2 linked regions of the Homo sapiens genome follow. The protein of the gene in region 2 purifies or fractionates together with the protein of the main gene of each other region. This does not show direct contact. Each region holds a gene or a part of one and is shown on either strand. Other genes may lie near its edges.

Evidence for each region.
Region 1: the proteins of DYNLRB1 (region 2) and SAFB fractionate together in Homo sapiens (co-fractionation; one large-scale study listed by BioGRID). This does not show direct contact.

What each region holds. Positions count from the first base shown.
Region 1 is NC_000019.10:5,647,083-5,651,507, forward strand, and holds part of SAFB (scaffold attachment factor B1), read left to right. Parts: intron 1-933; coding exon 934-961; intron 962-1,906; coding exon 1,907-2,417; intron 2,418-2,843; coding exon 2,844-2,893; intron 2,894-3,895; coding exon 3,896-3,990; intron 3,991-4,425. UniProt on the Homo sapiens protein: Binds to scaffold/matrix attachment region (S/MAR) DNA and forms a molecular assembly point to allow the formation of a 'transcriptosomal' complex (consisting of SR proteins and RNA polymerase II) coupling transcription and RNA processing.
Region 2 is NC_000020.11:34,536,210-34,541,560, reverse strand, and holds the end of DYNLRB1 (dynein light chain roadblock-type 1), read right to left. Parts: intron 1,128-5,351; coding exon of another isoform or gene 1,105-1,127; exon of another isoform or gene 1,069-1,104; intron 981-1,068; coding exon 937-980; 3' UTR 603-936; downstream 1-602. UniProt on the Homo sapiens protein: Acts as one of several non-catalytic accessory components of the cytoplasmic dynein 1 complex that are thought to be involved in linking dynein to cargos and to adapter proteins that regulate dynein function.

The DNA.
Region 1 (4,425 bases), on a different chromosome or scaffold from region 2:
TGGAATTCCAGAGGAGTGTACCTTGTGTGCACAGGAAACATAAAGGCTGGGGGATCACATCATGTGGAAAAAGCTCCTTTGCTTAGTGGGGCACAGCTGGAGTTGGGTTAGAGGGAAATAGGGAAAGCCTTCCTGAAAGGAGATGCCACTGAGCTGGATACTGAGGGATGTGGATGACTTGGCTGGACGGGGCAGGGGAGGGCTGGGCCTGTCAGGGAGGGAGGTGGCATAGGGATCCATTGGCTGAAGGCTGAAGGCCACAGAGGGACATGAGCTTACTGTGGACACAAGGTGCAGAGAGATGGGATGGGGATAATACAACCAGATGCCACAGTAGGCAAGGATGGCACCAGCCTGAGTGGACAGGGCTTCCTGGGAAGAGTCTGAATGACTTCTAGAACTGGCCTGGTGGGAACACTGATTGGAAGAGGAGATGAAGGAGGGAGGGTATTTACAAAGTTTTTCATGCTGGCACCACCATGCCAAGTAAGAGCAGGAGTCATACCACCTGGGCCCATATTCCCTCAGTCTTTCGAATATCAGAAAGTTGTCGTAGCTTCATTGAGTGAAAAAGTGACTGTTAATGTGCCATGCATTCCTCTAGATGCTAACAGTAGAAAAATGAAAACACTGCTCTCCTTGAATTTGAGAGTTCAATCTAGAGGGTCAGGCGTGCTTATGATGAGTGCCTCACCATGAAGTGAGACCAGTTCCAGGCTCCTGCAGGGGAGACTGAATGGAGGGTGGGCTGAGTGAAGTGGATGCCAGTCTTATGGAGCCATTCCTAGAACAAGCAGGTTCTCCACCTCTTGAGTTTGTGAGTTTCCCTCCCTGGATTTTTAAAATTCCCTCTTTAGTTATTCTGGGTTTTCATTTAAATAAACTGTAGGTGTCATTCATCTGGCACAGTCTTATTTACGTTTTTTCTTGCAGGAAATTGAAGAGCCATCCCTGGAGCCAGGTACTGTTAAATGAAAAACTTACCAGCGGGGGTTTGGAACCATTCTAGTTTTCCACCTTCTCTAATTTGAATTCTTTGATTTTTAAAAGTTACCTTACTATAGTATACATTGTTCTAAAGGTTTACAATCCAAAACCTACCAGGATCATAGAGATTGGAAACCCAGCCATATCACCAGATCTGTGAAAGTGGCTCACTTCTCATTTTACAAAATGTATTGGTGAGATGAAAGTATCTCATGCCTTTTTGAATATCAACAGCATTGAATCATACATAGAGAAAGAGTTCCAGATGCCTCTCTTGAGAGCTAATACCTCTGCACCCACAAAACAGATCTTGTGATATTGGGCAGTAGCTTAATTTTGTTGTTTTTAATTGAGGCAGCTCAGGTAGTGGTAGGGAGATACATTTTAAAACATAAATTTGAGACATAACTGGATTCCAGAAGAGGAAAGAGTGTCTTCATGAGAATTCCAAACACTGTTCACTTTCTGGACTGCAAATATCTCAGAGCACGGATGGAAGAGATTCTGGTTTTCATGTTGGACTGTTCTGTTAAAAGAAATTCAAAGAAATTTGGAAATTGAGCTGTTCAGTGAATGGTGATACATTCAGTTAAGCAACTTGGACTTTGGAAGCTAAATTTGGAAGAGTCATATCTAAACGACGACAGAATGAAGACTGTCAAGAATCAGCCAGAAGGTTTTGGGGGTTAAATCTCTGGGATGCTTTTCTCTTCCGTGTAGCGTAGAGGCTTACCTAGAGGCGGTCGCGGCGCAGGTAGTGTAACCAGTATAACTTTGTGTACCCGCGGGTTTTCCAATCTCTGTGTAGCTAGCAGTTCTCTTCGTGTTAGTGTGGCAGCCGTGCCAGTTCCACATTTGTGATTGCTTTATTTCCCTGGTAATTAAACCTTGTGCCATTCTATTCCTGTTAAATCCGTAGAAAATGAGAAAATACTCGACATTTTGGGGGAAACTTGTAAATCTGAGCCAGTAAAAGAAGAAAGTTCCGAGCTGGAGCAGCCATTTGCACAGGACACAAGTAGCGTGGGGCCAGACAGAAAGCTTGCGGAGGAAGAGGACCTATTTGACAGCGCCCATCCGGAAGAGGGTGATTTAGATTTGGCCAGCGAGTCAACAGCACACGCTCAGTCGAGCAAGGCAGACAGCCTGTTAGCGGTAGTGAAAAGGGAGCCCGCGGAGCAGCCAGGCGATGGCGAGAGGACGGACTGTGAGCCTGTAGGGCTAGAGCCGGCAGTTGAGCAGAGTAGTGCGGCCTCCGAGCTCGCGGAGGCCTCTAGCGAGGAGCTCGCAGAAGCACCCACGGAAGCCCCAAGCCCAGAAGCCAGAGATAGCAAAGAAGACGGGAGGAAGTTTGATTTTGACGCTTGTAATGAAGTCCCTCCGGCTCCTAAAGAGTCCTCAACCAGTGAGGGCGCTGATCAGAAAATGAGGTTTGTTTTTTCTCAGTTTTAGACCAGACGCTATCTCCTTTTCATTGGTCATGTAATGACACACATAAGCTGTTTTTTTCTGCAATTGGCCAGCCAGACTGACGAAATTGTAGTTTTGCTTCTAAAGAATGTTTCGTTTCTCTTTGTGTGTTTTTAATGGGTGATTCAATTCCTTTTCTTTTTCTCAACCTACCATGGTTGTGTTCTTAAATTCTTCCTAATTACCTTTAGCCCAGCAGAATTAATTAACTCCTGTGGGTCTGAAATCTTATGGTTAGGTCAGATTTTCAATACAAGTTTGTCGGGGTATCATTTTTTCAGAACTAAATTTCGGGTAGGTATGCAACCTCAGCACGAATTTTATGGTTTTGAGTTTGTTTCCTCCATGCTGCTTCCTTGTGGAGTGACATTGTCTTTTGTCTCTAGTTCTCCCGAAGATGACTCGGATACAAAAAGGCTTTCCAAAGAGGAAAAGGGTAGGTCACCTCGGCGACACCAGTCCCTTGGAGCATGTATGGCCTGGGCAGTGGCGGGTATTTGATTCTGGTTCATCGCGTGCTATGCTCCTTACCCAGGAGACTCCTGAGACGTTTGTGCAGTCTTTCTCCTTCTCTGCTGTTACCGCTACAGGTTCTGGGTTGTAGGAAGCATACCAGGTCCTAAGAGTTAACAGGCTGATTTGGTGCAGATCCTTGTGTTGGGAGCACATTCATCCTGTAACCCTTCATTAAATGCATTAACTGAGAAATAATTTTACCCTACCAAATTCCTTCTTAATCAGTGTTCTAAAGGAGTAAAAACATGGGATAGATACAGAGCTATACGTGGAAAGAGAAACAGTGCATTGTTGACACCAAGGTTGACTGTTCTGCTACATGGCCGTTGCACACTGCACTTCCTCCTGTAATTAAGCGATCGCTAACTTTTTTTGAGACAGAGTCTTGTTCTGTTGCCCAGGCTGGAGTGCAGTGGCGCGATCTCAGCTCACTGCAACCTCTGACTCCCGGGTTCTAGAGATTCTCCTGCCTCAGCCTCCTGAGTAGCTGGGATTATAAGCGCCCGCCACCACACCCAGCTGATTTTTTGTATTTTTAGTAGACATGGGGTTTCACCATGTTGGCCAGGCTGGTCTCGAACTCTTGACCTCGTGATTCGCCCACCTCAGCCTCCCAAAGTGCTGGGATTACAGGCGTGAGCCACCACACCCGGCCCGCAATTGCTAACTTTCTTAGGAAACCTCACATTGTCCCAATAGCCCCACTCAGTATTGTGACGGGCCCTGTGGTAGTGCTGCTGGGCCTGGTGTTGCACTGGAGGCTCTTGGTGAGGATAGTGGTCAGGCCCACAGCCCCATTTGGCTTTTAGTGCTGCCACTGCCTCAGGAAAAATGGGAACCATGTCTCTTTTGGAAAGGTTGTCTCTAAGACTCAAGATCTTGTGGGTATTTGGGTTTTTACTAGAATTTTCTTTTGAAATAGGTCGCAGCAGTTGTGGTAGAAATTTCTGGGTTAGTGGACTCTCTTCTACAACCAGAGCTACAGATTTGAAGAATCTTTTCAGCAAATATGGGAAGGTAAGTGCCAGAGCTTTTCTGGAGAAGATACTTTGAAACCAGCGTTGTGTGGCCTTTACATGGAGGTCCTCTCCCCTCAGTGAGTTCTTTGAGAGATACCAAGGAGCTTACACTTGCTAATGGCTGGGGAGGGTCTGCCCGTCCACAGGTAGAGGTGAGAGTGGTGTGGAAGCTTCCAGAGCCCACATCACCACTGTATTTCCCTCCCTTCTCTGCGAGCTTGCCCCCTTCCCTGTGATGGCTCGTGGATCCATTTCTGTGTCCTCAGGACGTCGCACTCAGGCTGGGCTGCCAGGGTTGGCTGGTGGGGTGCTGGTCAGCATGTCTGGGAGACAGCAGTGTTCTTAGAACAGTGTTCGTGATGCTGGAACTCAGAACTCAGAACAGGGACCCTGGAGTCTGATGATAGGGGTCCTCACCACGGGTGTCTTGGGT
Region 2 (5,351 bases):
GAGTCTGAGTGCAGGTGAATTCTGGGAAGCACTCGGCGAGAGGACCCCTGCGCTCCAAGTCTGCGGGGCAGATGTTTGCCCAGGACAGGCTCACTTGGGTGAACGGGGGCCCTCCAGGATTTCTGGGGCAGATAGTGTGGGAAGAGCAAGGCTATTTGAGTCTGAGACCTGTGTCCTGGCTGTGAGGGCGTAGGTAAGCCATTCTAAACCCAAGTCCCCATGTCTGAGGTGGCCCTAACACTCTGTCTACAGATGGTACCGTGAGGTGAGAGCTACTGTATGTTACACGCCAGGTGCATTCCGGGTCCTCAGTAAGTACCACTCTCTTCCCCAGTGCAGCATAGTAGAAAAAATCTTTCAACACTGGCAGCAGTGGGAAACAGTAAAAGAAGGACTAGGGCCAAGAGGCCCAGAAACCAGAGCACCAATTATACACCAAGCTACACTAAGTATGGCCACAGGCACAAGAAGCAGCAGGCCTCTCGGACACCATGAACATCATCTCCCACCAGGGCTGGAGGAGGCAACCGGGCCTCCGACGTGTGATTACACAGGAAGAGTGAGGCCTTTTCAACCTAGTGTTTAAAGACACAACAGACGGGTAAGCATTTTGGTTATTTTTAGTTAAAGAAAAACAGCTTTCTCCAAGGGCGACAAAGTGAACTGAAGGTCAGAAGGAAGCTGGGTGCGGGCTTCCTGCAAGCTCTTGCTCCAAAACCTGGAAGTGAGGAGAGGGCGCTCCGGAGCTCTGGGGAAGGTTGGTGCACACAGGGGTTCCGTTGGTGGGGGAGAAGAGCCGCCAGCCCACACACGGTCACTGGATTGGTGTGAGTGGGTTCCAAGCGACTGCCATGTGCTAGTCCACTGACATGATTGACATTAACATTCTTGGGGGGCATTAAATTAAGGAATGACACAGGGAGCCAAGAGAGTGGCTTATTCGGTTGGATTCTGAATCACAATCAGGAAATAGTCTTTATCTGCAAAAGAGAAAAATGAAAAAAAATCACTAAATGTAAAATGAGAGAAAAACACACAAGAAAGCAAATAAACCATTAAATCACTAACCATAAAATGAGGAAGGGGAGAAAGCAACAAAAAGCATCAACGTTCAGCATCTCCAAATGCTGGGAAAACGGAAGATAAACCTTTAAGATTCCTGCAGGGGCTCCTGCAAGAGGGGCCTCCCCATACCGGGCAGCGGGCACTCTACAGTGTGTCGTCTCTTCTAATCCTCCCCACGACAGTGGCAGCAGGTAGGCAGGATTCTCACCCCTGTTTTCCAGGTGGGGGGACTCCAGTTCAAAGAGCTCCAATGAATTGCCTAAGGCCATGGTTGTCAAGCTAGCAGGCATCCCAACCACCTGGAGGGCTCTACGCCCAGAACCATCATTTAGTGGGGCTGGGGCAAAGCCCAAGAGTTTGCATTTCTCTAACAAGTTCCCAGGTGATGCTGATGTTGTAGGCTGTGGGAGGACCACTGGCTTAAGGTTACCCAGCTACTTAGTGTCAAAGATGGAATTCCGACATACTTCACTGGACTTGGGTAATGTCATTTTCTTTTTTCTCTCTCTCTTTTTTTCCCCTCCGCGAGACAGAGCAAGAGCTCTGTCACCCAGGCTGAGTACAGTGGTGCGATCATGACTCGCTGCAGCCTTGACCTCCTGGGCTCAGGTGATCCTCCCGCCTCAGCCTCCCATGTAGCTGGGACTACAGGCACACCCCACCAAACCTGGGTAAATTTTTAAAAAGTTTTTTGTAGAAGGTCAGGCGTGGTGGCTCACGTAGCACTTTGGGAGGCCAAGGTGGGCAGATCACTTGAGGTCAGGAATTCAAGACCAGCCTGGCCAACATGGTGAAACCCCATCTCTACTAAAAATACAAAAATTAGCCAGGCTTGGTGGCAGGTGCCTGTAATCCCAGCTACTTGGGAGGCTGAGGCAGGAGATCTGCCTGAACTTGGGAGGCAGAAGTTGCAGATCGCCTCACTGCACTCCAGCCTGGGTGATAAAGTGAGACTCCATTAAGAAAAAAAAAAAGTTTTGTACAGATGGGGTCTCACTATGTTGCCCAAGCTGGTTGCAAACTCCTGGGCTCGAGTGATCCTCCTGTCTCAGCCTCCCAAAGTGTTGGGATTATAGGTGTGAGCAACCACACCCAGCCAGTTAATGTCAATTTCTGTCACAAACTCAATTTGTTGGCTTTCCAGAACCTTCTGAATAAGAAAATTTCAAAATGGGACAAAGCAGCCTGGATTCCAGCTCCAGGGATCTGGCCCTGTAAGGAGGAATGTCCACCATTAAATCACAGCAAGTCCAAGTCCTTGGAGGTGAGCCTGAGTGCCTCCCGTTTCACTGAAGAGGTAACTGGAGAAGTGGTATTGTTGCATTTAGGGCTTGATGATTTGGAGTAAAAGACACTGATGTTACCGATTGTGCCTATTTTTATCAGTGGCTTGTTAATTATTTGTTTTCATTAGTGATTTTTATATATGCAGATTTACCCACTTAATCAAACTGCAAACATTGATCAAGGCTTCTTTGTGTCCAGGTCTGGGCCACCCACTTCTCACACGGCACCTCAGTGAATCCTCGAGTCACTCTGAGAACACGGAGCCTCAGAGAGTTAAAGGGCTTGCCCAATCCAGGGTAAATCCACAGGTGGAGTGGGGACAGGGACCTGGGTTTGACCCCATACTCTGAACTGCCCTGGTCTGCTGCCCCCTGCTGAGCATGAGCGAAATGGCAGGACCTCAGCCAAGTCACTTTGTGGCTGTTCAGAGCCAAGCCTAAAGCTTGGTTCTTCCCACGAAGATGGGCTGTTGCAACAGGGAAGAAACAGAAATGAAGTGACTAACAGTTTCATGGCTAACCAATCTGCATACATAAAAATCACTAATGAAAACAGAAATAATTAACAAGCCACTGATAAAAATAGGCACAATCGGTAACATCAGTGTCTTTTACTCCAAATCATCAAGCCCTAAATGCAACAATACCACTTCAGGTGCTTTGTGAGAGGTAGTGTGTGTTGAAGGTTGTGTAGGCTGAGTTAGTTACCTCAGCTTTAATACTAGTGAAGTTAATAAGTGAAAACTAGAAGTCTGTTTTTTTTGTTTTGTTTTTTGAGACTGGGTCTCGCTGTTGCCCAGGCTGGAGTGCAGTGGCGTGATCATGGCTCACTGCAGCCTCAACTGCCCAGGCTCAAGCGATCCTCCTGCCTCAGCCTCCCGAGTAGCTGGGAATACTGGTGCCACCATGTCCAGCTAACAAAAGTTTGTGTTAAAATGTCTTGGCCGGGCATGGTGGCTCACGCATATAATCCCAGCACTTTGGGAGGCTGAGGTGGGAGAATCGCTTGAGCCTAGGAGTTTGACACCAGCCTGGGCAACATAGTGAAACCCTGTCTCTACCAAAAAAAAAAAAAAAAAAAAAAATGCTGGGTGTGGCGACACATGCCTGTGGTCCCAGCAGTATACTAGGGAGGCTGAGGCTGCAGAGAGCCATGATCGCACCACTGCACTCCAGCCTGGGCAACAGAGCTAGACCCTGTCTCAAAAAAAAAAAAAAAAAAAAGCCTGTTCACGTGGGCGGTTCTGGGCCAGGGTGGGGTGAATGTGGCACACATGTGGAGAGCCACACTGTCTGGAACACCTGCTGCTGTCTGCAGCCTGGGAAGCAGTACCTCAGCTGGATGGGGTCAGGTCAGGCAGGTGGGAAGGCATGGATCTCCCTCCCGGGCCAGGCTGCTCCAGGCTGCCCACGATGTGTAGGGTGCTAACTACAGTCTCAAACGGGCACTTCCAGCAGCAGCCAGGCCTGCTCTACGCCTGTGGCCACCCCTGGGTCCTGTGTTCTGTAGCCATCCTGAGGCAATTCAGCGCCAGGGCCTCCTAGGCTCTGCGTGGTGGCTCCTGACCACAGGAGTTCTGGCACCAAAACCCAATTATTTTTTCTTGGCCACATAAAAGTGGGTATGTCAAAGTGTCAAATCACTGGTTTTCATCCTAAAACTATGCCCCACAGACATCCCTGACCCCGTCCCCACTGCTGACCCCACTTCTGACCCATATCAGTGGGGTGTCAGCAGTGGAGGGAGGTTTACAGAGTCATTCATTTATTTAATCAATGGATATTTGCTAGATGCTTACTATGTGCTTACAAGCCCCTGCCCTCATAGAACTTACTCTCAAGTGGAGTAGATGGCCTTAAAAATGCAGGTAAGCATTTGGTGACGAGGAAGGACTTGAGTGGCAGCAGTGAGGCTGAGCCAAAGAAGCATGCTCTGTAAGACAAGCTCAGCGCGCCACCGTCCTCCAGCACAGCGCCGCATGTGTGTGGGAGAGAGACAGTGTGACTTGAGAGCACGGGCGCCCCCTGCAGTGCTGCCAAGGTGAGGGACTGGCCACCTCATCCTCCTCCACTGACAAGGTTGTGGGATCTCCAGGCCTGTGAACCCCAAGGAGAACCCCCTACTTGGGAGCTGCCCATTCTGGACTCAAGCACCAACCACAGTCATGGGCTCTGAATGCCTGTGGGTCTTCAGGGCCAAATTGGAGACGCTGCCGCTGCCAAGTTGAGACCTGAATGGCCAGGAGCTTTCAGATGACACTGTCCTTCCAGAGGAGACATTCTCAGGAGCTTTATGCCAAGGGACACTGTCTGTGGAGAATTTGTCTGATTTGGAGACCAAGTAATTTGCTCCCTTCCCCCATACCCTGAACTCCCAGTGGGCCACTGGGGAGCACAAGGTCTGCTGTGCACAGGGTGAGCAGGGGGACTGTTCCCGGCCCAACTTTTTTTTTTTTTTTTTTTTTGAGACAGAGTCTCACTCTGTTTCCCAGGCTGGAGTGCAGTGGCGCGATCTCAGCTCACTGCAAGCTCCGCCTCCTGGGTTCAAGTGATTCTCCTGCCTCAGCGTCCCAAGTACCTGGGATTACAGGTGTGCGCCACCATGCCCAGCTAATTTTTTTATTTTTAGTAGAGACGGGGTTTCACCATGTTGGTCAGGCTGGTCTTGAACTCCTGACCTTGTGATCCGCCTGCCTTGGCCTCCCAAAGTGCTGGGATTACAGGCGTGAGCCACTGCGCTCCATCCCGGCCCGACTTTTGGGGAGTGAAGCTTTGTCCTCTGCAGTCACACAACATGACAACCTGGGAGGAACTGCAGTTTAAATCTGATTCCAAGGCTTTTTCCCCCAACCCAGGTCAACACACTCAACCAGGCAGGGTGGCTCAGGACATCAGCACAGCACAGTCCCCTACTCGACACTTTACAGATGTGGATTTGCAGGTGTTCTGCGACTTGCCCAGGGTCATGCTTGTGGGAAGCAAAGCTGGGAAAACAGATTC